Homo sapiens: one gene and its partners. The protein of the gene in region 1 interacts with the protein of each later gene in a pairwise test. Each region holds a gene or a part of one and is shown in the gene's direction. Other genes may lie near its edges. The genes, in order: TSGA10, CDC73, ZNF490 and LZTS1.

What was found.
Region 2: the proteins of TSGA10 (region 1) and CDC73 interact in binary tests that used the Homo sapiens proteins (3 or more experiments, as listed by UniProt).
Region 3: the proteins of TSGA10 (region 1) and ZNF490 interact in binary tests that used the Homo sapiens proteins (3 or more experiments, as listed by UniProt).
Region 4: the proteins of TSGA10 (region 1) and LZTS1 interact in binary tests that used the Homo sapiens proteins (3 or more experiments, as listed by UniProt).

Annotation. Positions count from the first base shown.
Region 1 is NC_000002.12:99,067,923-99,074,946, reverse strand, and holds part of TSGA10 (testis-specific gene 10 protein), read left to right. Parts: intron 1-1,873; coding exon 1,874-1,929; intron 1,930-3,072; coding exon 3,073-3,241; intron 3,242-5,948; coding exon 5,949-6,059; intron 6,060-7,024. UniProt on the Homo sapiens protein: Plays a role in spermatogenesis. When overexpressed, prevents nuclear localization of HIF1A.
Region 2 is NC_000001.11:193,117,159-193,125,030, forward strand, and holds the start of CDC73 (parafibromin), read left to right. Parts: upstream 1-4,872; 5' UTR 4,873-5,042; coding exon 5,043-5,173; intron 5,174-7,872.
Region 3 is NC_000019.10:12,607,791-12,615,613, reverse strand, and holds the start of ZNF490 (zinc finger protein 490), read left to right. Parts: upstream 1-4,800; 5' UTR 4,801-4,933; coding exon 4,934-5,050; intron 5,051-6,411; coding exon 6,412-6,456; intron 6,457-7,823. Other genes in the region: ZNF791 (zinc finger protein 791), read right to left, coding at 4,532-4,534. UniProt on the Homo sapiens protein: May be involved in transcriptional regulation.
Region 4 is NC_000008.11:20,245,657-20,251,979, reverse strand, and holds the end of LZTS1 (leucine zipper putative tumor suppressor 1), read left to right. Parts: intron 1-1,616; coding exon 1,617-2,258; 3' UTR 2,259-5,815; downstream 5,816-6,323. UniProt on the Homo sapiens protein: Involved in the regulation of cell growth. May stabilize the active CDC2-cyclin B1 complex and thereby contribute to the regulation of the cell cycle and the prevention of uncontrolled cell proliferation. May act as a tumor suppressor.

The DNA of each region.
Region 1 (7,024 bases):
AGTCTCTGTCACCCAGGTTGGAGTGCAGTGACACAATCTCAGCCCACTGCAACCCTCGCCACCCGAGTTCAAGTGATTCCCTGCCTCAGTCTCCTGAGTAGCTGGGATTATAGGCGCCCACCACTGCACCCGGCTAATTTTTGTATTTTCAGTAGAGATGGGGTTTCACCATGTTGGTCAGGCTGGTCTCAAACTCCTGACCTCGTGTTCCGCCTGCCTCACCCTCTCAAAGTGCTGGGATTACAGGCATAAGCCACCGCATTCGGCCTCAAGTAAAGACTTTCAAAAGCACTAGTTCAACTAGCTTTTCAGAATTTGTTTAGAAATGTATTAAATTATATTTCAAAAATGTGTAAACATTCCATTTTATGGAGTATTTTGTCTTTTAGTTTTTCCTTCGTTGGCTTGTCCTTCTTGAAGGGGTTTAACTTTTTTTTTAATGCATATTTTAACAACACACCAGTATCTATTACTGCCAGATGTGGAATCTGTACCATTCCATGAGAAAGCAGAATGGGAAACTGTAGCTAAAAATACCCTGGAGAAGAGCACATGAATAAAGGAAGATAGCACACACACACACACACACACACACGCAAATATGTGTAAAACTAACGCTAAAGAAATAGGAACGGCCGGGCGCAGTGGCTTACGCCTGTAATCCCAGCACTTTGGGAGGCCGAGGTGGGTGGATCACTTGAAGTCAGGAGTTTGAGACCAGCCTGGCCAACATAGTGAAACCCCGTCTCTACTAAGTATACAAAAAATTAGCTGGGCATGGTGGCGCATGCCTGTAGTCCCAGCTACTTGGGAGGCTGAGGCAGGAGAATCGCTTGAACCTGGGAGGCGGAGGTTGCAGTGAGCCGAGATCGCGCCCTCGCACTCCAGCCGGGGCATCAAGAGCAAAACTCCATCTCAAAAAAAAAAAAAAAAAAAAAAAAAAAAAGAAAAGAAACAGGAACAGAATTGGTTGGAAAATATAGGTTTGGGTTTTTAAAAATCTTTTTACTTAGTTACTTAAAATTTGAAAATTCAAATGGCAAGGTGAAATCTAGTTATTACTTAGTGAAATAACTTTCTTACTTTTTTAGGGCTAATGTTAGCTCTAAGTATCTGTTTATAGTTGGACTAGTTCAGGGTCAATGGAAGTTTTAAAAAGAGGTGTGGGAATGGTATTAAAGGCATTAAGATATTCAAACCCATTTCTGCCTTGACTGACTCCACTACTTCTACTCCCTCATCACGCCTTTGAAAAAGGAAAATATAGTTTATTTCTCTTACCTTTGCTCGAGGCCTAATGCTTACCTTCTTATTAGCTCTCACCTAAATATCAGTAGTATACTTCTATAAGTAATTGGATTGGAACAGCTTTTTGAAGATTTTGTTGCTGGCTAATATAAATAATACACTTAATCAAAATTATTCTTAAAAACTAAATTTAGGTATACATGATTGGCTTCTCTGGGTTTTATAACATAAAGAATGTGAGCAAGAGAACCAGTTCTAAATCCCAGTATAAAATGCCAATACTCCAATGCCAAACCATTGGTTTGCCTCCAAAAACAGGTGGTTATAGGGTTCTTGTATTGCTGGGTGACTGCATAAAATATCTTTTGACAAAGAATTTGATATACTGATCTCATAATTACACCTAAGTATAGCCTTTACTTTAATGAACATAATCTATTTTTACCCAGTGCAAATATTCACATTGATATACTAGGCTTTAAAGTGTGGAAAAGAATAGGACATACATGTTTTTAAAACCAAATGGAAACCTAAAGGGAAAGGGAAATTTTCTTTTTGTTCATTCAATTTTAACAGAAATAACAGCTTAAGATTTTTTTATTTAATACTTATATTATTTTTCAAGGAAAAGACCATTTCAGGCATGAAGAATATCATTGCTGAGATGGAACAGGCATCAAGGTAAATCAGTCGTGCAACAAATATATGAGCTCTTACTGGGGGGCCAAGTACCATGTTAGGTACAAAGATAGTAAGAAACAAGGGGCTTAATGATACGTGTAAGGTGCTAACTCTCTCATCAAAGGAGGCCTAAGTCTGTCTAAGGAACTAAAAGAGGGGATGGTGTTTGCCAAGTAAAATAAGGGGAAGGGAAGGGCATTTAAAGTAGAAAGAATAGCAAAGAACCACAGATCATGTTGACAAGCCTCTTGACCTACAAGTGGGTGAGTGTTGTTGAAACCTAGAGTGTAAGGGGAGAAGTGAAGGGAGGAGACTAAATAGGCAGGCAGAGGCTTGTGTAACAGACAAATGAGTATTGGTTATATCCTTTGGGCAATAAGAAATCATTAAAGAATTCTGAGGAGAATTTTGTGTTAGAAAGATACCTAAGCAGAAGAGGTGGTGATAAATTGGGGTTTAGGAGTTGTGGGACAGAAGGAGTGAAATGCTTTTGTATGAGGGAGAGACACCAGGAAAATGCCAAGTTTCTGGCCAGGGACAAATACTGAACATGAAGAAAGTATGAGGAGAAAAAATGATTTTACCTCTGAATTTGAAGAACCTTTGGGACCTTATTGTAGACATGTCTAGTAAGCAGTTAAATATAAGTCTGGAGTATAACAGAGGGTCTAAAACTGGAGATAATTATTTTGGAGTCATTGGATCTAGATGGGGTTGGGAACCATGGATATGAATAGAGTTTGTCTGAGAGAAGGGTTAGAGTGAGAATAATTGGGAGGCTAGGGCTTGAGCCCTGAAAAGCATTAATTTTTAAGTGGGCAGAGGAAGAGGAATCTGTAAAGGAGACTAAGCCATAACAGAAGTAGGATGAAAGCCTTCCTAATACTTGATGTAAGAAGTTTTGAAATATTTGGCAAATCATTGACTATTATGTATACTTTGTATCCTTTTCATAGCGAAATGATGGCAACATTGAGAAACTCTAATGCACTGTCTTTGCAGTATTTATTCCTATAAATTCAAACGTGTTTAAAATCTCTTCAAATGTTTTCATACTAACTGTCCATCTTCTGTCTTGTGAGAATTTGTTGCTCTGTTTCAGTAAAATGTCTCTTCTTATGTACTCTTTGATTTGTGGAATAGACAGTGTACTGAGGCCCTAATTGTGTGTGAACAAGACGTTTCCAGAATGCGTCGGCAATTGGATGAGACAAATGATGAGCTGGCCCAGATCGCCAGGGAAAGAGATATCTTGGCTCATGACAATGACAATCTCCAGGAACAGTTTGCTAAAGCTAAACAAGAAAACCAGGTACACTTGTTCCTAGAATCATTTTCTCCAAGAAAAAAAAATATGAATTTCTTGTGAGGAACAGCCCTCATTTTATTTTATAGAAGAGCTCAGACACTGGAACTAGCCTTTTCTTTTTTTTAAAAAATAACAAAATAGGCCACATAATTTTTAAATGGAATTCTCAGACACAAAGGGTTAAATATTAAAGAAAAGAGAGAACAGGGCTATATTTGTATTAAAGCTTAGTACTTCCTTGCTGAAGGATAAATATTTGAATAATCAAAAAATGAGAATAAAAACCTTGAGAAACCTTAAAGAAAAGAATAGGTGTTTTTTTTTTAAAAAAATGGACTACATATTATTCTGTTTTAAGTATGAATGTATGGACTGTGCCTTGTTTTTTGGTTCTCATTAGCACTGTGATTCTTTTTAGGAAAGTTCCTCTTATAATTACTCTTTCTCCCTAAGGCAATATATTTAAGTCTAATCTGCAGTTCTCATTTCCAATAACATTTATTTTAACGTGAACATTTAAAAATCCTATTTGGAAAATTTCTTCCCTTCTCAAAATTTTTAAGACCAAATGGTTTTCCCCACTTTGTATCACTTTCAGTGTGTTTAGTTTGCATCCTGAAAGTCTGTGTTCTTTAACTGTTGAAGATTATTAATTTACTTAAACAGCTATAAAGCTGTAATACTTTGTTAATCATAAAAAATTATCTGAGATGTTAAAGTATTTTGTTTAAAAGTAAATGAATAATGGGATCCTGGAATAGAAAAAGGACATTATGTAAAAAAGGAAAGAAATCTGAATAAAGTATGGACTTCAGATAATAATGTGTCAATATTGGCTTATTAATTGTGACATATGCACCATACTAATGTAAAATGTTAACAATAGAGGTGCCCTTTATAATGTCTTCACAACTTTTCTGTAAATCTAAAACTATTCTAAAAGTTTATTTAAAAAATTAATGAATAGCAATAAAAACCAAAACATGGGAATTTGTAAGGTTTGCCTTTGTGTACTCTTTACAGCTAGAGCATATGGGCTAAAGGTGGATATATCTTATTTATGAAAACCTAGAAATTTAGTTTCTATTTTTTTGATTGGTTTAGAAATAGAAGCTTATTATAGAAAGTCTTTTTTCTAAACAAAAAGTTAAGAGTTTAGAAAAGCCCCCATGTTTTTGATACTCAGTTACTGTTATATTTGACATATTTTTTTAATTGCTATACAGTGCACTTAAAAATTTTAACACTATTTTTATACACATTTTCTAATGTAGTGGGATAAAATCACCTATCACTTTAGATCATGCTTTTTTCTACATGAAGAGGCAGTAGAGTCGAGTAAGATTCACATGGGTTGAATCTTGCTCTCTGCGTGTGTGATCATATAAACCAACTTCTCTGAGTCTCTGTAGCATCTGTAAAAATGGTTAATAAGTGAGACTATACCTGGAAAGCACTTACTGTACTGTCCAGTATATCACTCAATAAATATTTTATAGCTATTATTAGCTTACTATAATATTGTAAGCATTTTCCTGCCTTGTTCAAACTTTGTAAACATTTTTTATAATCAGAAGAAAACTGTTGTCATAACAATTTACATATGCTCAAAAGTAGTTTTTTCTTCGTTATGGTCATAGGCCCAAGGTAGAAGAGAGGTCTCTCTCTGTGGACCACAGGTTAAGAACCAGTATTGCAGAAGACGAGAAAGTGGAAACTTAAAAAAAATTTATCCTTGATACCACAATTTTTAACAAATTGGGATAATGAGGTATTTTTGTGTTTTAGCACGATTTTTTTTTCACTTAACATAGGCAAATATTTCCCTGTATTATTAAAAATCATTCCAAACATTTCTCACAGGTATGTAATATTCCATTATGTGGTTATGCCACTATGTAGATATACTATTATTTACTGCATGATTCACTTAATGTGAATAAATATTGTCACTGTAACAAATGCCTTAATGACAGCATCTCATTAAATTTTATTAGATTTCATTTCAGAGTGAATCACAGATTATCAGGTTTCTTTTTAATTATTATTTATTTATTTATTTATTTATTTATTGTAGAGTTGGGTTCCCACTATGTTGTTCAGGCTGGTCTCAAACTCTTAGGCTCAAGTGATCCTCCCAAAGTGCCAGGATTACAGGAAAAACACCCAGCTGAGGTTTCTTTTTTAAATTAAAAAAATGTAAATAGACATTTTCAAATATAATGAATCCCCATGTGCCATTTCCCACCTTCAAAAATAATCAACATTTTTGTCTTTCTTGTTTTTATGAGCATTTAAAAATTGTCTCTTGATACATCACCAGATTCCTGATCACAGATTTGCTTTCTGCAAATCTACATTTACTCCAGTAGTACATGGAAATGCCCATTCTTTACCATAGCTGAATAGCTTTAAATCTTTATTAATTTGATAAGCAGAATAGTAATGTGTTGTTTTAATTAGCATATCTTCAGTTGCTAGTAGAGTTTTTTTCAGGTCTTACCTACTTATGCTTCCTTTTTTGAATTGCTTATTTGGGTCATTTGCCCACTTGCTATTGGGCTTATGTGTTTTCTTTTTTTATATGAGTTTATATATTAGGTATGTTAATTTTATTTGTTCCAAGTGTTTAAAAATTTGTTTATGGTATTTTTGAGATATAGAAATTTTTTATTTTTCATAGTCAAATATACCTATCTTTTTTTCGTAGGCACTGTCCAAAAAATTGAATGACACTCATAATGAACTTAATGACATAAAACAGAAGGTTCAAGATACTAATTTGGAGGTTAACAAGCTGAAGAATATATTAAAGTCTGAAGTATGTATTTTTTTTTTCTTTTTGCTCATGATACTTAGTTTTCACTAGAGTTAATTTAGAAGTTGGTATACTCAGAACGACAGGTGAATCAAAGCTTTCTTTAATACATAGTATATTTTAGTTTTGACAATGGTGGGTTAACTACATATTTAGAATGTTCAGAAAGATGCCTGGAGAATATGCCCCTTTTGTTTTGCAACTCTGCCACTCTAGACAAGCAGAATCTTCCTAACTGGATGATGGACAAAGGGCTAAAATCAATTTGACCTCGCTTATAATTAATTGAAAGTGGTGGGGTTTCCAGTTATAAACCTCTGACAAAAGAGGTTCCACCTGATTATGTAGCAGATCAGAATTGGTTACCCTGTTATGGGACCATCTATTTTTTTTAGGACCACAAGGCAGATGGTTCTCCTCACACTTCTCTGTTAGCAATCATTTGACCAGGCACATGTACATGACATCAGATGACTCCAATAAGTGTGGTGCATGTGTGGCAACTCAGGAATAAACAGGCAGCTTTACTGAGGATTTTAGATATGTCTATTAGGTAAAATATTATCTAAAATTGAGGGAGGATGTTCCCATTAATGGTTTGAGTGGTATGTAGGTAACACTATACCTATTATAATAATCAATCCACCTATACTATTTTATCATTTCATGTCAGTCCACAAACATATCTTGAACATTTATTTATGGTATGCATAGTACTGTTAAGGGCTTTGAGACAGAAGAGATTCTAAGGATTTCTAAATTGCAATCCTTGCTTTCAGGCAGCAAGCAGCCTGTGTAGGAAAAGCACGTGGTTTCCTACACTTCCTGATTTTAAGGTTCCAGCAATGTAATACCATAAATGAACAAAAGGCTTTTTATTTATGCAGGCTACTCAGCCTCTCTGATTCTTCCCATCTGTAATCGGGAAGAACACCCAAGTAAGTGAGATAATTTAAAACACCTAGCAC
Region 2 (7,872 bases), on another chromosome or scaffold:
TGAAACCCCGTCTCTACTAAAAATACAAAAAATTAGTTGGGTGTGGTGGTGCACACCTGTAATCCCAGCTGCTCGGGAGGCTGAGGCAGGAGAATCATTTGAACCCGAGAGACGGAGGCTGCAGTGAGCCAAGATTGTGCCATTACACTCCAGCTGGGCGACAGAGTGAGACTCCACCTCAAAAAGAAAGAAAGAAAGAAAGAGAGAGAGAGAGAGGGAGAGAGAAAGAAAGAAGGAAAGAAAGAGGAAGAAAGAAAGAAAGAGAAAGAAAGAAGGAAAGAAGGAAAGAAAGGAAAGAAAGAAAGAAGGAAAGAAAAAGAAAGAAAGAAAGACTGACAAAATACAACCATATAAAATGCTCAATTAAAACCACAAACAGCTGGGCGCAGTGGCTCAGGCCTGTAATCCCAGCATTTTGGGAGGCTGAAGCAGGAGGATTTCTTGAGCCTAGGAATCTGATACCAGCCTAAAAAATAAAGTGGGTCCCTGTCTCTATAAAAAATTTAAAAATTAGCTCGGTGTGGTGGTGTACACCTGTAGTCTCAGCCGCTCTAGAGGTTTCAGTGGGAGGATCACTTGAGCCCAGGAGTTTGAAGCCGCCGTGAGCTATGATCACACCATTAGGTTCCAGCCTGGATTACAGAGCAAGACCCTGTCTCTCTCTCTCTCTCTCTCTCTCACACACACACACACACACACGCACACACACAGGAGAAAAACTGTGGCAGATATAAATAGGAACAGAGAACAAGGGCAACAAATAGAAAGCAATAACAAATACGGTAGATATTAATCCAACTTTATCAATAATAACTTTGAACATCAATGGTCTAACTGCACCAATTAAAAGAGATTGTCAGAGTGGTTCAAAATATGAGACCCAACTCTATGTTATCCACAAAATCCCACTTTAAATGTAAACACGCATATAGATAAAAAGTAAATGAATGGAGAAAAATACATCATGCTAACACCAATAAAAAAAAGTAGGATTAGCTATTTTAATTTCAGACAGAGCAGACTTCAAAACAAGGAAAGTTTGTTGGAATAAAGAAGAGCATTATGTAATGATAAGGGGTCAATTCTCCAATAAGACAGAACAATGCTTAATGTGTACGTGCTTAACAACAGAGCGTCAAATTATATAAGGCAAAAAACTGATGGAACTACAAGGAAAAATATATGAATCCATTATTATAGTGGAAGATTTCAACACCCCTGTATCAGATATGAACAGAACCAGCAGGCAGAAAATCAATAAGGATGTAATTGAACTCAACCACACCATCAGTCATCTTGATATAGTTGACATCTATAGACTATTCAACAACAACAGAATAAACATTCTTCCTAAACATGCAAGGAACATTCGCCATGACAGACCACATTTTGGGCCATAGAAGACACTTTTGTAAATTTAAAATTATATAAAGCATACAATATCTACTCTCAGACCACAATGAAACTAAACTAGAAATCAATAATAGGAAGATAGCGAGAAAATTCTAAAATATGTCGAGTTTAAACAATACATTTCTAAATAACATGAGTCAAAGAAGAAATCTCAAGATAAATTTTAAAATATTTTGAGCTGCAAGAAAATAAAAACATAACTTACCAAAGTGTATGGGAGGAAGCGAAGTAGTGTTTAGAGGGAAATTTGTAGCATTGAATGTATATATTAGAAAAGAAGAAAGACCTAAAAATCAATAATCTAAACTTCTACCTCAGGAAACTAGAAAAAGAAGAGCAAATTAAATCTAAAGTAAGCAAAAGAAGAGAAATAATAAAAGTTAAGCATAAACTGGTAAAACTGAAAGTAAAAAAATCAGTAATCACACCAAAAGCTGGTTCTTTGAAAAGATCAATGAAATCAATGAACCTCTTAGTCACGCTAAGAAGAGAGAAGACACAAATTACTAAAATCAGAAATAAAAGAGGGGACATTTCTACAGATGACATGAACATTAAAAGGATAATAACAAATGCTGTGAACAACTATATCCCACTAATTTCATAACCTAGATAAAATGGAACCCCTTGAAAGACACAATCTGCCAAAACTCACACAAGAAGAAATGGACAATCTGAATAAACCTATATATATCAAAGACATCAAGTAAATAATTAACCCATAATTAAGTACCCAACCCATAATAATTCCCTGGAATAAACTATGACTATGTCTGGGTTGTTGTTTGCTTACTCTCTGGATGGACTGAGGCTTTTCCTTGCTAGGGAGCTATAACTCCACACACTGATTTCCCCCAAACTTTAGGAAAAGTAAAGAGAACTAACAGAGTCCTAAAACTAAAATTATCAACAGTTTCGAAAAACAAATTTCATGGCCCTTCAAATTGCCATTAGTCATGATTGATTGATGACAATAAATCAACCCCTTCTGGGACCCACAGATTATCTCTTCTTGAATTAACAGCCTCCCCCTACCCATGTATTTGAAAATTTTACTTCCAATCCTACGTTCTACCATTACAGAGTAATATAAATAAATGCTTCATGAGACTTATGCTACCTGCCGAATTATCCCTAGTAGGTTCAAGTGCATTTCCAAAATACTTACCTAAGCAGACTTTGATTGATCTAAAACCTGGCAATTTGGTCCTTTGGAAAAGGAACCAGAATAAAACTGTCCTTGGGCACTGGTGGAAAGAACCTTATTGGGTACTGTTAGCAATTGAGGTAGTGGTTTAAACTCCAAGGTAATGATGTTGGATCCATCGTTTCCAACTAAAAAGACATACCACTTTCTTCTGATTGCTGGGCATTTACTCTAACAGAAGACATAAAACTAAAGATTTTTTAGGAATTCTTCAGGAGCTAATATCTGGAGATGTGGACTGCTTTTGCCCAAGACAAAGAAACCAGACTATTTTTCTGTTTTTTTCTAATTAATTTTCTAATTTTTCAGCTCTACCACTAATCTTGCCTTTTATTGTATTTTGACATCCTCCAATGAACCAGTATTGGTAGGGCAATTATAAGGGTACTTAGATAAAAACAAAAATGATCTACAATTGCTTCTGTAGACACAGGGTCTAGGTATGTTGCCCAGGCTGGTCAGGAAAAAAATGATCTACAAATTTCAATGCTTTAACTGTTAAAAGCAACAACTTACTAATGACTTATCTTACCACTTTTTAAAATTCATTAACCTAAAAAACATAATTTCTCTGAAAAGAGAGACTTTAATCATTATTTGAGTATGAAATAAAATTAAGTATCGTTTGAAGGGACTATAGTCGAGCCTCCTAATCATGAAATCTTGGCTTCCTTGAGCTTATCTTTCCATTCATTACTTCAACATTTATTAGAAGCCTCTATCCATGTATTAACTCGATATTTACTAGGAGCTTCCATCAATTTATTGAATTCATCCATTTATTACTAATATGTACCAAATAATGTTAGACAGTAGGATATGAGGACACAGATCTATGGTGTTTCAGTTTTGTGGATGCAGGCAAATAAACTATAAAGGGAAGTAATATGGTACTGAGTGCTCTGACACAGGTATGAATAGAGAATGTGGGGATAGGTAATTGTAGCCATTTCTTTATAATGTGTGTGCTTGGGGTGAGATTCAGGAGAATACTACGGGGTGAAAACATTGGTGGAACAGAAAAAAATTTCACAAACTAACAGTTGCAGAATGGCTACAGATCATATCGGAAATGAACCACACACTTCTGTATCTGTAGTCCTCTGCGTTGTGAAAAGATTGACTTTTTTCAAAACAGGTCAAGGAATTTGGTTATGTCAAACACAAAGTTGCCTCTTTTTTCCTTCTGACATGGTAAAAGAAAAAAAACAATCCCATAGGATGTGTTTGGTTGGCCATAGTATATTGAACTTATCTTAACCGTCTCAAAACGCATGTCAAGGACACCACTGAGACTTCTGAGTACCATTTAAAAAATTGGGTAGTCTGGAAGTGTTCTAAATTGGACCGTTTGGGGTTTCTGTTAGGGCAACTTTCCCATTTACATCTTGGAACACAGCCTTTTGAATATAGCCCTTCGGGATTGGCGGGGAGAAGGGACCGCGATGGAAAAAGTCATCATCCAAAGAATGAAGAGGGAGGATCCAACATTTAGGATATTTTATTGACTTGCTAGGCGCGTTTACCTTATCTTCGTATTAACCCCATTTTCTTCATTAACCAATTGATGCTGTGAGAAGCTATGTAACTTGACGAGCAGTGCCCAGAACTGTTTTTTTTTTTTTCTGGACTCGGTCTTTTCCACTCAAAACCAACAAAAAACCAAAACTCGTTCTTTTCCACATCAAAAGCAAACAAAAAACCCCAACCCCAACCCCAAGAGCCCCACTCTTTCAAAAGGGCTTCTCCGGATCACTAAGTCCTAGAGGTCTTTGGCTAGGCCTGGGTCCGATCTAAATAGGAAGGTAATTCTAGTGTTCCGCAAATCCTTGCCGAATTCCATCCCGGCCAAAGCAGGGACCCGGGGGAGCCTCTGGTCGCACCCGAGACAGTTCGTTAAATACTCAGTGCACGTGCTGGGGATGGAAGTGCTGACCCACTGCTCAGGTACGCGCGCACCTGACGCCGCTTGGTGCGCGCCGCGGGGTACTGGGTACGTGCTCCGCGCGCGCGCGCCCGGCAAAGTTCCCCGTACGTGCGCCGTACGTGGGCGCGGTGCCCCAGCGCTCAGCGTTTCAGCGAGTGAGTGGGCTCCGTGCCCAGCTGAAGTCTGGGAGGGGCACTTTTCCAGGCGGTCGCGGCTCCCCCTGGCGGCGGATGTGCCTCGCTGGAGGGGCGCAGTCAGGCGTTCTCCGCGGGCAGCCGGCGGCGGGGCCTTGCCTTACAGCGCGGGGTCCTCGGCGGCCTGGGTGGCTACTGCCCCTGCTGCTGTCGTAGGCGAGGACGGCTGTTAGTGCTGCTGCTGTTGGTTCGTCGCGGCGGCGAAGGAGGAGGAGGAAGAGGGCGAGGCGACAAGAGAAGAAGGAGGCAGGCGCGGCGGCAGCGGCGGCGCCCCGAGCCGGCGGAGGCGAGGGGGGGGAAGATGGCGGACGTGCTTAGCGTCCTGCGACAGTACAACATCCAGAAGAAGGAGATTGTGGTGAAGGGAGACGAAGTGATCTTCGGGGAGTTCTCCTGGCCCAAGAATGTGAAGACCAACTATGTTGTTTGGGGGTAAGTCCGGCATGGCTGTGGCCCAGGGGTGGCAGGGCAGAGTTGGGCGCCCCCAGGCGACCTCTTTCTTAACCCCTCCCCCCGTTTCCCCTGGGGATGGGATAAAACGGGTGTTCGGGGAAAAGAAAGTTTCTCTCTAGAGCAGAAGTTGCACTTTTAGGGTAAGGAAAGAAGGGGCGGAGCTCTAGAGCAGTTCATCACTTAAAATTTTTGAGAAGCCCAAAGGAAAGGTACCGTGGGAGTTTCTGACTTTTACAGTTAATTTTTATCAGTAGGTATGTGTACCAGCGAAGTGTGGGACTGGTGCGCAAGGGATACCTGAACATAGGTGCACAAAGGAGCACACCGTCTGGTGCCGTAGACGCCTCTTTTTGTTCTTTATTTTTTTTTTCTCTTTTCCAGGCTGCTATGTAACTATCTCCGCTGGTCTTTGCAACTCCTGGTTTATTTCATCTCCTTTCATTGTTGGGGTGGGGGTGATTCCTGTAGAAGAGAAAAGGGAATCAACCCTGAAGTTAGGACCGGAAAGAAATTTGGTGAATTTGGAAGAGTCATAAAAGTCTGTGTTAGAGAGGTCTTCAGGAGTTGGTGAAATGAGTGAGCTTTACAGATCTAAGAAATAGATGGTGCGTGTGATTTTTCGGAAGTGTATTTTAAAGGGAAATGTTTGGGAATGTTGGTCCATGTGAAGTTTTATCAGTTTAAGTCATTCAGGAAAACTTCTAGAGACGGCTCTAACAGTCATTAGGGGCCTTTTTAATGATGTCACTGTCATTGGTGCATCGCTTCTAGAATTAGAACCTTGAGCTACAACTTCCCTACTCATTTTGTTTCTTTGAATGGAAGCTTTATGAAGAGTCGATGAAAAACTAGGGAAATTTAGTTTGTTGGTTGGTATTTATTTATTTATTTTTGAGAGGGAGTCTTGCTCTGTCGCCCAGGCTGGAGTGCAGTGGCGCGATCTTGGCTCACTGCAATCTTTGCCTCCTGGGTTCAAGTGATTCTCTTGCCTCAGCCTCCTGAGTAGCTGAGGTTGCAGGCCCCCGCCACCATGGCCGGCTAATTTATGTAGTTTAGTAGAGATGTGGTTTCACCGTGTTGGTCAGGCTGGTCTCGAACTCCTGACCTCAAATAATCTGCCCGCCTCCACTTCCCAAAGTGCTTGGATTACAGGCGTGAGCCACGGCGCCCTGCCTATTGGTTGGTTTTAAAATTTTTTTGTCTTATGATTTAATTAGCTTTATAAAATGTTGATCAAATGACATTCTGAGTTTCTGGTATTTTACCCTTTCGAATAATTTGCATAGGTAGAATTACATGTGGTTGGATTTTTAGTGAATTTTTTTTTTTTTAGACAATGGCTAAGGAGTACCTAGGGTGTGAAGTGGTTCAATCTGAGGATTAAAAAAATTCCTAAGACTCTGGTTTCTACCTCAAAGGAGGTTAACTTAGTCTGAATAGAGGAGATTAAACAGATAAGTTGATGTGAAATGCTTTCTATAAGTTGATGTGAAATGCTTTCTACAATAGCTTTTGAAGACAGCAGTCACTTCTAGTTGGGGTTATTTAGGAGAAGGTTCCATAGAATTGTCTTTGGCAAGTTCACATCCAACAAAGTTTTCTTGAATGAATGAATGAATGAACAAACAAGCTTTAAAGAATAGGTAGGAATTCTCTGGGCTAAATGATGGGTTAAGTCTTCCAAGATGAGTGAACTGTATACTTAAAGGCTGTATGCTTAAAGGCATAAAGAACTGGAAAGTAAATGTGTTGACAGCAATCCAGTGAAGCCAGTGAAAAAGGAGTGCTTATCACAGTAGATTTTAAACTTTTTCAGCAGTTTATCACACCAAGAAATTGTTTTTATTTTCTATATGTGCACATGCACATGGAAATATATACACATATAAAACACTAAACAATACTTACTCTTCTTATTGTATGCAGTGCATTTTATTTTTCTGTTCTTTTCTATTCTGAAAATAGAAAAAATATGGTTGTTAACTATTTATTGGGTTTCATAGTACAATAATTGATGGTGTGTGGTTTGAAATACATTGGTTTAGAGGAAAAATGGGACTAGAAGGTAGAAAAGTAGGTTTAGGGCTGATTATAGTGGACCATATTCAGATGGATTCAAAGATATAGAAGGGGAAAGTGTAGAAGGAAGGGTAGGATTGGAATGAGGTAATATTAGTACCTGCATTAGAGATCTTGCACCGTTAGTAGACTACATTGTTTTATCACAGGTAGAATAGCATTTTGGTTTTACATTATTGGTCTAATTTGAGGGATGCCATAACAGTCATACCCCTGAAATTCAGTGTTGTGTTTACTGTAAGAATGTGAAGGATGTTGTTCAGCAGTATCTTATTTATCAAGAGCCATAGGATAAATTTCTTTTACATTTAGCACCAGTGATAATTGTGCTTCTTCTAAGCAGTGTAATTGTTTTCTCTTATGGATCCTCTTCGATATGGATCTGGTTAGATTTCTCTATTGGTAAAGCCCAGAGCCTAATTTGGGCCTAATTCTAAAAAGTTTGTAGTACCTTAGAGTATGAATTTTTTGTATTTTCCCTACTTCTTGCTTTTTGTCATTGCCTTCCTTTGTGTTTCTTTTGTGATCATGACAGTCTATTCATTATTAGATTTTATACTTTTTTTTTGTTAGCTATGTTAAACTCATTGTTGTTAGCA
Region 3 (7,823 bases), on another chromosome or scaffold:
AGAGACGGGGTTTTGTCATGTTGGCCAGGCTGGTCTCAAACTCCTGACCTTGTGATCCGCCCGCCTCGGCCTCCCAAAGAGCTGGGATTACAGGCATGAGCCATCGTGCCCGGCCGGTACAATCTTATGATGAAATATTGTTCAACGATAAGAGAAATCAGGTATCAAGCCATGAAGACACAGAAGGACCTTAAAAGTACATTGCTCAGTGAAGGAAGCCAATCTGTGAAGGCTATATCCTGAATAACTCCACGTGTATTACATTCTGGAAAATATAAAACCTTAAGACAGCAAAAGTATCTTTGGATGTCAAGAAATTGTGGGAGGCCATGCGCTGTGGGAGGCCAGGGCGGGAGAAGTGCTCGAGCCCAGGAGTTCCAGACCAGCCTGGGCAATATGGCGAAACCCCATCTCTACAGAAAATACGAAAATTAGATGGGCATTGTGGTGCATGCATGCAGTCCCAGCTACTCAGAGGAGGCAGGAGGATCACTTGAGCCCAGGAGGTGGAGGCTGCAGTGAGCAATGATCACATCACTGCACTCCAGCCTGGGCGACGGAGTGGGACCCTGTCTCAAAAAAAAAAAAAAAAAAAAAAAAAGTTGAACATAGGAGACTAAGGTGGGAGGACGGCCTGAGGCCAGGAGTTCCAGACCAGCTTGGGCAACAGAGTGAGACGCTGTATCAAAAAAAAAAAAAAAAAAAAAAAAAAAAAAAAAAAGGCCGGACGCAGTGGCTCACACCTGTAATCCCAGCCCTCTGGGAGGCCAAGGTGGGCAGATCACCTAGGTGGGGAGCTCAAGACCAGACTGACAAACATGGAGAAACCCCATCTCTACTAAAAATACAAAATTAGCTGGGCATGGTGGCGCACGCCTGTAATCCCAGCTACCTGGGAGGCTGAGGCAGAAGAATCGCTTGAACCTGGGAAGCGGAGGTTGCGGTGAGCCGAGATTGTGCCATTGCACTCCAGCCTGGGCAACAAGAGCAAAACTCCGTTTCCAAAAAAAAAAAAAAAAAGTTAAACATATTCCCCAGCTTGGACCCAGACTCTCCCAGCTTGAAAAACGTAACCCCGGCCTGGCGTGGTGGCTCACACCTGTAATCTCAGCACTTTGTGAGGCCAAGGCAGGCAGATCACCTGAGGTCAGGAATTTGAGACCAGCCTGGTCAACACGGTGAAACCCCGTCTCTACTAAAAATACAAAATAAATTGGCCGGGCCTGGTGGCACACACCTGTAATCCTAGCTACTCTGGAGGCTGAGGCAGGAGAATGGCTTGAACCCAGGAGGCGGAGGTTGCAGTGAGCCGAGATCGTGCCACTGCACTCCAGCCTGGGCAACAGAGTGAGACTCGGTCTCAAAAAAAATAAAAATAAAGAAAAATGTAACCCCTAGAGTGGGTCAGTACCTGGTAATGGAGGATAGAAGCACCTGATCAGCAAGGAACTATGGGAGCTCCACACCTCCTTCTCTCCTATGGCAGCAAAGAAACATTAGCTTCCCTAGGTTTCCGTTTTCCCAAGTGAGGAAACTCTCAACCAGATTGAGATTGAGGTTCTGATGCAAATGAGCTCCCCAATTCATTAACCCTGTCTCTAGGAAACATAAGTCCTGACCTTCACAGACACTGTCAATATGCACCAATTACACCCAGTACACCTATATTACGGAAGTGAAACTCAAAACGTAATGTCTAAAAACACACCCAAGGAAACCACAATTAAAACCTCAGACATCCTCCCCTCTTCCCCTAACAGCATCTGCCTGTGCATCCTCAGCTTCCAAGTGCTCTGCAGTTTCTTTCAGTACAAGAGGATCCTTCCATGGTGGGCATATGAGTAGCTGGCAGACCTGTAGGGGAGGCTCCCCAGGAAGAACCAATTGGGCCTTCAATGATCTTTCTTTGCAGGCTCAAAGGTGGACTTAGCTTGGAATCACTTATCTCAGGCCTCTGCTCCCCAGTCACAAGGCTCTGGAACACTACTAGTAATTTTAAATGAGACAATTTAATTAAATTTTTTTTTTGTTTTGAGATGGAGTCTCACCCTGTCACCCACGCTGGAGTGCAGTGGCGCGATCTCGGCTCACTGCAAGCTCCGCCTCCCAGGTCCACGCCATTCTCCTGCCTCAGCCTCCAGAGTAGCTGGGACTACAGGCGCCCGCCTCCACGCCCAGCTAATTTTTTGTATTTTTAGTAGAGACGGGGTTTCACAATGTTAGCCAGGATGGTCTCGAGCTCCTGACCTCGTGATCCGCCCTCCTTGGCCTCCCAAAGTGCTGGGATTACAGGCATGAGCCACCGTGCCGGGCCCTTAAATTCTTAAGGATTGTTCCTTAAACATCCAGCAGAAGGCCTGGCACGATGGCTCACACCTATAATCCCAGCACTTTGGGAGGCTGAGGCGGGTGGATCACCTGCGGTCCGGAGTTCGAGACCGGACTGGCCAACATGGTGAAACCCCGCCTCTACTCAAAATACAAAAAAATTAGCCGGGCATAGTGGTGTGTGCCTGTAATCCCAGGTACTTGGGAGGCTAAGGCAGGAGAATGGCTGTCAATATGCACCAATTACACTCAGTGTACCTACCTTACAGATGTGAAACTCAAATGTAATGTCTAAAAACACACCCAAGGAAACCACAATTAAAACCTCAGACATCCTCCCCTCTTCCCCTAACAGCATCTGCCTGTGGCTCCTCAGCTTCCAAGTGCGGAGGTTGCAGTAAGCCAAAATTGTGCCACTGCACTCCAGCCTGGGCAAAAGAGCAAGACTTGGTCTTTAAAAAAAAAAAAAAAAAAAAAAATCCAGCAGAATTACTTAAACACAGTGTTTACGTATAAAGGAAGCAAAAGGCCTGGCGTGGTGGCTCATGCCTGTAATCCCAGCATTTTGGGAGGCCAAGGCGGGAGGATCATGAGGTCAGGAGATCAGGAGATTGAGACCATCCTGGGAAACATAGTGAAACACTCTCTACTAAAAAAAAAAAAAAAAAATACAAAAATTAGCTGGGCGTGGTAGCTTGTGCCTGTAATCCCAGCTACTTGGGAGGTTGAGGCAGGAGAATCGCTTGAACCCGAGAGGCAGAGGTTGCAGTGAGCTGAGATCGTGTCACTGCACTCCAGCCTGGCGAGAAAGCTAGACTCCGTCTCAAAAAAAAAAGTAAATAAATAATAAATAAATAAATAAATAAATAAATAAAGGAAGGAAGCAAGAAAATTTTAAGCCATTTAACAAGAAAACCCACTATTGCTTTCAGAAAATGAGAATGTTGGGCCGGTAATAGTAGCTCATGCCTGGAATCCTAGCACTTTGGGATGCTGAGGGTGGAGGATCGCTTGAGCCCAGGAGTTCAAGATCAGCCTGAGCAACACAGCCAGACCCCATCTGTTAAAAAAAAAAAAAAGAAAATAATAATGTCAGTTAATTATTTCCATGGCAATAAATAGTTTACAAAAGTATTACTTCTATCTGAATGCTTCTAGATGTTGCAAGTTTAAGTCCTGGAATACCATCTGAAACATCAAACTAAAAGAACAGACCTGAGAAACATATTCCATGTGCTCAGGGAAAGAACAAAGAATTTTTAACAAATGTAATATTGGGATGTTTTTTGTTTTCTGAGATTCATTTCTTTTTTGCCCTTTGGAAATATTTTGTACTGTCTCTCAAGTTCTTCTGATAACATATATTTTATATTTATTGGAAAAATGACATTCGAGTGAATAAATCTTTTCAAGGTCATAAACCCAAGGCGGGACAGTGCCAATCTGAAACTGTGCTGAAAAGATAGATTACCCAGGAAAGTTTACAAAAAGGAACCTCAACGCAAAGGAGTTCCCATAGGATGTCTGTGCCCTGGAAAGGTACCAGGATGAGGGCCACAGCATTTTATGCAGATTAGTTCCAAGTGAATAATTTTTCTGATTTTTCTCTGATGTAAAATATCCACAAACAAGAAATAAATCGTTTAAAAGAGGCATCTATTGGAAAAAAGATTATTAAAATACTGCGTGTGTTTGAAATGCACCACACAGGACAAAGAGTTGGTGACGATGTTTTCCACTGGCGAGCGGAAGTAGGCGTTTGGGAATTCGGGGAGGGATCCGGAAATCTAGGGATTAATGGCCCGCCGTGGGAGGAGCTAGGCTGGGGGGACAGGGTAGTGGATTTGAGACTCTGCTTCCAACATCTTTGGAAGACTCAGGGGGAAACAGCCTTTGGGAAGAAAGAAGGGACTGGGAACCCCAGACTGTAGCTCCTCCCACACAAACCAAACACACAAGGCGGGATTCTCCCCAGGACCCTCCCGTGGTCCCTGCACGATCTGGGAAAGACGCGGGGCTGCGGGCGCGGAGTTGTCCAGAGAGGGCTCCGGGGCTGGGACCGCAGTCGCCGCGCAGGGACGGGACAGGACGCTTGGAGTTCCAGCTGCCAGCCCAGCCCCACACTGCGGCCGGAGGTGACCGTGGGGAGGCCCGGGTCCCGCGATCACGGCCGGTTCCAACTAGTCCGGCCCTGCACACTCACCATTTTCCGGCCTCGCGGGTGTCCCGGTGTTGTCCCTAAGGTTCACGGAGCCAGCGCAGGGTACAGCGCATCCGATGCAGGGGTACAGCAACCTGACGCGTCAAGGGGCCAGGAGACCCCAAGCTAAGCACAACCCGATCGCACAGTGACGTAGCACGCATTTGCGCAGCGTAGCCGTACCCTCCTTTCCGGCGCCGCCCCTGATTGGACAATTATACAGCCCCGCCCCTTTTTGTCCGAATGACAGCTAGGCAGCAGGTCTAGTAGCTAGGCAGATCTCGCTTCCGCCGGTGGGACGGAACTGGTGCCCTCCGTGGACAATTGTGTTGAAGCAGAAATTGTTCCGGATCTCGGGTCGGACACGGAAGTCTTCCTGCAGTGTTTCTGGATGCGGGGACAGGGATGCGCAGGAATTCCAGTCTCAGTTTCCAGATGGAGCGACCCCTCGAGGAGCAAGTCCAGAGCAAGTGGTCGTCTAGTCAAGGCCGCACAGGAACAGGAGGGTCTGATGTCCTCCAGGTACCAGGGGCTTGGCATAATGTTGTAAGGCCTCTCGTGGAATAGTGACCCTTGTTTATAAACAGACGGTTACCCCATCATGTGTAATAAAAAGTGTGGTTGCATTTTAATCTTTGACCATAACAGCGTTGAGGCGTCCACCTTTCTTTTCCCCACCTCCACACATTTGGCACTTTAGAAAAGGAACCCCAAGGCAGGGCTTGGTGGCGCACACCCGTAGTCCCAGCTACTGCGTGGTGGGGGCGGTGGGGGAGGTCGGGGGGTGGGTGGGCTGAGGCGGGTGGATCGCTTGACTCCAGGAGTTTGAGTTCAGTCTGGGCAACATGGCCAGAACCCATCCCAAGAAAAAAAAAAAAAGGAAAGAAAGAAAAAACAATCCGTAGGACACCCGAGCACTTGGCTCGGGTGGTAAATTGCAACCCTAACCTGGGCACAGGGACTCTTCAGACCAATCACGATCTATGAGACGTGCTCAGTAAACTGCGTTTTACTCTGGAAGGAAATGGTTTGTTTTCGTTGTTTTTTTGTTTGTTTGTTTTTAGTTTAAGCATGTTTTTATTGCTTTTCATTTTTATTTTTATTTTTGTAGATTTATGGTTACAAATGCACTTGTGTTACGTGGATATATTTCATAGTGGCGAAGTCTGGCTTTTAGTGCACCCATCACCCAAAGAGTGTATATTGTACCCAATAGGTAATATTTCATCCCTCATCCCCCCTCTCTGTCCAACCTATTGGCATCTCCAGTGTCTATTATTCCATTCTGTATGTCCATGTTTACCCATTGTTTAGCTCCCACTTATATGTAAGAAGATGCAGTTTTTGACTTTCTGTTTTTGCATCATCGCACTTAGGATAATGGCCTCCAGTTCCATCCGTGTTGCTGTAAAGTGGAAGGAAATTTATCTCAAATAAGTTTTCTAAAGTGTCCCTACAGAACTTGGAAAGACCAAGAGCCCAAAACCAGCCTGGGCAACATAGCGAGACCCCATTTCTCAAAAAATTTTTAAAAATTAGCTGGGTATGGTGTTCACCTGTAGTCCTAGCTCCTTCGGAGGCTGAGGCAGAAGGATCTCAAGGCTAAGAGTTTGAGGTTACAGTGAGCCAAGATTGTGCCACTGCATTCCAGCCTGGGAGAGAGAGAGACTGTCTCTAAATTTTTTTTTTAAAGTAGAAACATATTTCATTTTTCCCATTATAGAGGAGACAGTGTAATCTTGAAAACTCCCATGATCCACCCTTCTGGTAGCTCTGTGTGTACAGGTAGATGCAGGGGGAACAATGCTTCCAAGGCTGTCAAAGGTCATGTTTAGTTCTAAATTGCTGAAACTCACAAAATGCATCCTCTTGTTTCTAATTAGATGCAGAACAGTGAACACCATGGACAAAGCATCAAGACTCAAACTGTAAGTGAGATCGCTACCTGTCAGCGTGGCTACCTTCCTTGTTTATAATGACCATTTGGGTCTGTCCTTCTATGACCTCTTTGTGGGGGGGTCTTTCGGGTCTTTGTGAAGGCACTCCCATAGTCAAGGCCAATAACCAGGCTCTCAGGTATGTCCTGTTCATTGCCCTCACCCTGTACTTCCATTGTCCCTTACCTTCATTGGCCATCCCAACACAGCCACCTGCATCCTTTGGAATATCACATTTGGGCTGGGTGCAGTGGCTCATGCCTGTAATCCTGGCACTTTGGGAGACTGAGGTAGGAGGATTGCTTGAGTTCAGGAGTTTGAGACCAGTGTGGGCAATGTAGTGAGACTCTGTCTCTACAAAAAATAAAAAAAATGGCTGGGTGTAGTAGCTCATGCCTGTAATCTCAGCACTTTGGGAGGCAAGGTGGGTGGATCACTTGAGGCCAGGAGTTGGTTTCCAACCTGGCCAACATGCTGAAACCTCATCTCTATTAAAAATATTTTTTAAGTTAGCTGGGCATGGTGGGAGGCACACCTGTAATCTCAGCTACTTGGGTGGCTGAGGCATGAGAATCACTTGAATCTGGGAGGAGGAGGTTGCAGTGAGCTGAGATCGCGCCACTGTACTCCAGCCTGGGCAACAGAGTGAAACTCTGTCTCAAAAATAAATAAATAAATAAATAAATAAATACATAAATAAATAAAGATAAAAAATTAGCTGGGCATGGTGGCATAGTCCCAGGTCCTCGGGAGGCTGAGACGGGAGGATGGCTTCAACCTGAGGCTGCGGTGACCTGTGATGGTGCCACTGCACTCTAGCCTGGGCAACAGAGCGAGACCCTGTCTCAAAAAAACACAAAAACCACAAATTTGGAGTCATGTTTACTTGTTTGCATAGTTTGGACAAAACGATCACTGCAGTTCTGACCTTCAAGGTAAACATGCAAGAGACGGATAAGGCACGGGTTAGTGTCGGGGGTACCTAATTTTGTCATTGCTATCAGTTCCCTGATCTAAGTGACTCTGTAATCCCAACACTTTGGGATGCTGAAGTGGGAGGAATTTCATGGGGAATGACTACAGCCTTCATGCATGTGGATACATAATCTGAGCCTGAATATGTCATCTTCACATAAAACCACGATTTGGTTATTGACTGTTCTGTGAATCCTGGGTTCCTTGGCTCATGGGAGCTTCAATGTGGCTTTTCTGGCCAGGAACTTGCCTGACATTTTCAATAAGCCAATCCTTAAGTTCAGCATGCTGGTATTTTTCAGTGTCTGGGTCACCGTCCTTCCTGTCTACCAAAACCCGAAATGGGGAAGCTATCAATCCTGGCCTCCACTGATTTGCTGCTG
Region 4 (6,323 bases), on another chromosome or scaffold:
CTCAGTCTACACGCAAACCCCTGGCTATGTGCAAGTCAACAACCAGTGGTTTAACTTGCCCACTGCTGGCAGCTGTATCACCCCCATTTAACACCAATGGTATTGGTTTTGGTGTCAGCCTGATTTCCGTCATCGACGTTTATGCCCACATCCTCTGACCTCACCCCTGCATGCACCCAGCCCTCCTCTCTCCTGTCTACTGGAGTAAAGACTACCTCACAAATTCACTGCTGTACCCAGTGACTAGTATCATGCTGGCTTGGATGCAGAGCCCAATCCACATCTGTCAAACGAGGAATCATTGTCTTCTCCTCTTGCTCTTCTTCTCTATTTCCACCCCTATCCCCCATCAAAATTTGGCCAAGAGCAATGATGAAAACCGAAGCCACAGGTTAGACCCATGTGTCTCTGGATCTTGGCCATCTGGGGTCATGGGAGACCAAGGCCAGTCTGGCTGAATCTTAAGAGTGAATGAAGTCCAGAGCATGTGGCTCTACAGAATGGATTCTTGGAACTAGCCTGGAAGCCACCTTCACATTTCCTTTCACAGTAGAAATTTCCCCTTGCCCTCAGTGAAACACTGCACAGTCCTGGAGAAAATCCGACCCTACCCAGGATGCGTGCTTGGGACCAAGAATTTCATTCCAAGGCCAACCCTGTATTCATGCCACGAAGGGAGTGACACAGTCATGGCTGAGGCATGGGCCTGGCTTTGAACCTCAGCTTGACCACTTATGATCCAGGTGATTGTAAATACATTAGCCATGGTGGCAATGGGGTATAGTGATTAAACTGTTGGGATCAAATCTCTACTCTTATACTTTATATTTTATATATATATATATATATATATATATATATATATATATATATATATATATTAGCCCTCAGGCTGGTCACTTCACCAGCTATTTGCTATCATAACCTCTCTGTGCCTCAGTTTCATTGATGTAAATTGAGGACTACTAATAGTACCTACTTCATCGGGTTGTAAGGAATAGATGAGCAAATGTATGGCTTGGCACTTAATAACACTACAAATTATTAGTGAAAGTATGTTTATAATAATATACTTCTGTGTGGCTAGGCGTGGTGGCTCACGCCTGCAATCCCAGCACTTTGGGAGGCAGAGGCAGGCAGAGCACTTGAGGTCAGGAATTCGAGATCAGCCTGGCCAACATGAGGAAACCCCGTCTCTACTAAAAATACAAAAATCAGCCAGGCATGGTGGCAGGTGTCTGTAATCCCAGCTACTTGGGAGGCTGAGGCAGGAGAATCAGAGGGGAGGCGGAGGTTGCAGTGAGCCAAGATCACGCCACTACACCCCAGCCTAGGTGACAAAGCGAGACTTCTCAAATAATAACAATAATAATATACTATGTGTCATTATACATGATTATTATTATTTTATCATTTTACTATATAGCCTAGCTCGATAACCTGGGGAAAAGGTCACAGCAATGTTCAGCTTACTTTCAGATTGGACAAAGGCTGGAATGCCTAACACCGGGCCACCGCATCCGGAGTGGCTTGGTTATTTTAGGCAGCTGAGCTGTCACTTCCCTGGGTAAGGACACTCACCTCTTGGCACTCTGTCTCCACCCCACCCTCGGCAGGTGTGCCAGAAGTCAGGCGAGATCTCCCTCCTGAAGCAGCAGCTGAAGGAGTCCCAGACGGAGGTGAACGCCAAGGCTAGCGAGATCCTGGGTCTCAAGGCACAGCTGAAGGACACGCGGGGCAAGCTGGAGGGCCTGGAGCTGAGGACCCAGGACCTGGAGGGCGCCCTGCGCACCAAGGGCCTGGAGCTGGAGGTCTGTGAGAATGAGCTGCAGCGCAAGAAGAACGAGGCGGAGCTGCTGCGGGAGAAGGTGAACCTGCTGGAGCAGGAGCTGCAGGAGCTGCGGGCCCAGGCCGCCCTGGCCCGCGACATGGGGCCGCCCACCTTCCCCGAGGACGTCCCTGCCCTGCAGCGGGAGCTGGAGCGGCTGCGGGCCGAGCTGCGGGAGGAGCGGCAAGGCCATGACCAGATGTCCTCGGGCTTCCAGCATGAGCGGCTCGTGTGGAAGGAGGAGAAGGAGAAGGTGATTCAGTACCAGAAACAGCTGCAGCAGAGCTACGTGGCCATGTACCAGCGGAACCAGCGCCTGGAGAAGGCCCTGCAGCAGCTGGCACGTGGGGACAGCGCCGGGGAGCCCTTGGAGGTTGACCTGGAAGGGGCTGACATCCCCTACGAGGACATCATAGCCACTGAGATCTGAGGGGCTGCCTGGGAAGGCGAGTCTGGGGACCTGGCACTGGGAGGCAGGGCTCTCCCGTGCATCCCCCCTGCTCAGCAATTCAGACCCCTCTGAGAGACGCCACTCCCTGGGACACAGACCCAGGACCCCCGAGGGGAGGGCAGGATGGCCTTTCCTTCCCTCTCTGATGTCCCAGTGCTCACCAGCCCTGCAGCCCACCAGACGTCAGGCCCTGACTCCTCTGGCTTTCCCAGGAGATGGGTCCAGGGGTCTGTCTGCTTTGGTTAAGGGCTCCCTAAACTTTGGCCTTTGTTCGAAATAGATATCCTCTCCCCCTCCTCCAGGGAAGGTGGCCACAGCAAGTACAGCGGCTCCCCTCTGCTTCTCATCCCAACCTCTTTTTCCTCCTGGACACATTGGAATGCCTTGGAAATAGAAAGAAGCCATATATGACCAGAAGCCTTGGAACCAGCCCCATCAGAACCTGAGCTATTTTCCTCTGGCCGCAGAGGTGTAGGGGTGGAATGAGCCGCGGGGAAGCTGGCTTTGAAACCTCAGGGCTGTCCCAGCCCCGGCAAGCCACAGGAAGGAGGGGAGAGACAGGCAGCCCAGCAGTGTGGAGACCCTGCCACAGCCAGAGGAGGGCAGAGGGAGAATCCAAGGGTTGAGAGCCAGTGGCGGGTGATGGCCAGCCCCTGGGGCCCAGCCCCTGTTTACTGGTTCTTGCAAATGGGAGCTGAGCAGCCTCTGGACAGCCAGTGACCTTTGACCTCGGTGACCACTCTTCTTTAAGCCATAGACCCTGAGGCCCTGGGCTGGGTGCTGGGAAGGGAGGGTTGAAACCACCGTGAACCAGAGGGTGTGGCTTTCCAGGCACCCTCAGGGAGCCTCCCCATCTGTCCAGCTGGGGCCAGAGGCTGGGAGTCCCTACCTGCTTCACGTTGGCCGGCGGCTACTCTGGAATGTTTTTCCCTCCCCAGAATCAAGCTTTTGCTTGATCCAGAAGAGCCCATATCACTAAGATGGCATATATGTGATCTGGGCATTTTCCTCCTCTGCCTACAGCCAGGTTTAGCGGCAAACCTTTCCCCCTTAGCACCTTCAGGGCTGAGTTCTGGGTTTCTAGAGGTCAGGACGGCTCCTCAGAGCGCCAGGAAGCCAGAGCCCCAAGCAGGACGAAAAAGAGGCATACACACAGCAGTGTGAATAGCCTGGCCACCAGCCATCCTCCCTCCACCTCAAGACCCCCATTTGTCCCAGACTAAAGGATCCAGAGAGCAGCTCCCTTTCTCAGGAGCTTGGGCAGTGCCCCAGGGAGTCCAGGGTTTCTCTGCAGATGTGCGGAGCGGGAGGCGGTGGTAGAGAGAGATAAAAGGTGGAGTTTCTCTGTTGTTTGGTTCAGGGATTTTATTTTTAATTTTATGAGACAGGGTCTTGCTCTGTCCCCCAGGCTGGAGTGCAGTGGCATGATCATAGCTCACTGCAGCCTCATACTCCTGGGCTCAAGCAATCCTCCTGCCTCAGCCTTCCAACTAGCTGGGACTACAGGTGCGCGCCACCGTGCCTGGCTAACTTTTCATTTTTTTTGTAGGGACGGGGTCTCGTTTTGTTGCCAAAGCTGGTCTCAAACTTGTGGCCTCAAGCAATCCACCTGCCTTGGCCTCCCAAAGTGCTGAGATTGCAGATGTGAGCCACCGTGCCTGGCCAGATTTTTCTTTTATTCTTCTTTCTTTTTCTTTTTTGCTTTCTTGTCTTTTCAGAAGCAAGCCAGACCTAGCAGGCTGTTCCATGTTCTATTTTTGACTGTAGCCACAGCTGCTGTTCTCAGGACAGCATCCCTTCCCACATGCCTGCGCCTGCTGCCTGCTGAGATGAGGAGGGGAGCGTCTGGGAACTTGCGAGTCCAAGGCCAGTCCCCATTTCTGCCTCGCTCACCGCTGGCCCTTAGAGACCCCGAGGTAGGGGTGGGGAGATGCTTCTCTCCTTGCCCCCCGCCCTCATGGGTCCTAGCCCTTCCCTGAGTGCGGGCTGAGGCCAGAGTCACCTTTTCTGTGGCTGGCTCTACCTTCCTGTCCCTGAGGTTAAACGGTGCCCATCCTGCCATCCTCAAACGACAGAGGAGCTTTTCTGGAATTTCAAACCATTGCTCTTAGTCCCAAGCTAGGCTTAAACCTGGAATCTACAAGCCAAAAGTCCCTCCCTGCCTGAGGGCAGTACCCTCCATTGGGCACAGTCCAGACCCAAGTCAAAGATGCCCCATTCCTTGCGCCTCAGCCCTCAGTTCCTTCATTTCCACCAGGCCGTGCCTTGTTTGAGTTTTTCCTCCCAGTGAGACTGCCCCACGGAGACAGAGGAAAGGGCTGGCTCCCCCTCCCCAGGCTGGAGACCCCCCCCCAACTCCAGGAAAGAGCAGTCAGAGTCCAGTGCTCTGCCTCAGACGTTGCCTGAGAAGAAGTGGCTGCCACACCCAGGGGAAGGCCCTGAGGCGGAGGCTGTGCTCCGCCATGGTGTCCCGGTACCTTCCATACACAGAGGAGTGCAGCCTTCTCCATATCTCCATGGCCCTGTCCCAGGCCGGCCCAGATGTGTCCCCCCCAGGCCTTGTCCTACGTCCAAGGTGGCAGATGTCTTCCCTGGGCTGCCACCAGCCCCCGCCCCAGAGTGGCCCACCGTGGCACTAGAATGCAAGTATCCTGCGACCTTGCAACCTCACCTTCCTGTGGGTGTTCTTTCCTGCCCTGTCCAAAAGCGCCCTCACTATTCTTGGACCATGCCAGATTCTGCCTCTCTGGAAAGAGGCTCTGGACAGCAGAAGCCTCCAAGCACAGAGCCTGGCCCCAGGCCCCAGACAGGGTGGGCTTCCTGCCCTTCCCTCTGGGCACGCCTGCTGGCCGACCCACTGACCCACTCGGATGGACCAACCTGCTCTGTCCCCAAAGGACGCCTGCAGGAGAGAGCAGCACTCCGCATCACCTCACCAAGGATCGGACTCTGCCCCTGGACCTGGGAACGACTGGACTGTCACGGGGTTCCCTCCTAGCTCTCCCAGTGAACTCCTGCCAGGCACACACAGCCCCTATAGCACTGAGCTCACATGGGACTGGGATATGGGGGCATCTCTTCCCCAGAGAGGCACTCAGTGAGCCTCCTGTGCCTGGCCCCAGCCTGGGCCATCTCTTAGGTGAGACAGTTGCCCGAAACTAAGCCAGGCCTGGCTGGAGGAGCAGCAGCTTGGGGAGAGGGATTTCCCTGCAGACCTCAAGCCATCATGCGGTGGGTGCTGCCATGACAGAGGCTGCACCCCTGGGCCAGCGGGGCTGCTCACCCACCTCTTGTGCAAGGTGGCCTTTGTGCTGCGCCTGCAGGCAGAGCTGGAGCCCCCAGCAGAGGCAGGCTGGGACGGACCAGCATCTGGAAGATGTACATAGTTATTTTTCTCTTTGTGGTTTCTTGTTTGGTTTGGTTTGCTTTTGACAGCTTCATTTTATTTTTGACGTCACTTTTTGGCCATGTAAACTATTTGTGGCAATTTTATGTTTTTATTTATGAATAAAGAATGCCATTTCTCACGCCCTCTAGAGCCACGTGTATCTGCCCTCCTCTCCCCTCGCTGCGGTGTGGCAGCTCCCTGGGACTTCTCCCCTTGGAACAGGAAAGATGACGTCCCTTCCACCAGCGAAGGGGGTGAGGAAGGCAGCACAGGGCAGTGGGAAAGGGGCCCCCGGGGTCAGACAGGCTTCAGCTGGCCCCTGCCCCCATCGCCTACCCCGGGACCTTATCTGTGAAATGAGAGGAAAAGGGACCCAGGGACAGGTGTCCATGTAGAGTCAGAGCGTCCTCTCCAAAAGAGAGCCCCTCCCCACCCAAACTGCATGCCCTACCGTCTGCTCACCTCACCAGCCAACTCCTGGGTCTACTGCATATGGCCTCCTGGCAAAAGACCAGCATGGCTACAATTGCCACTGCCCCAGGGCCCCCTGGTGGGGCAGGTGCAGTCACCATCATGGCCATCTGTCCAGCCTTCTTGGTTCCAGCCTACCTGGTGCCCCCTTGACAACCTTCCCTACCATCCCGGGCCCACAGCCT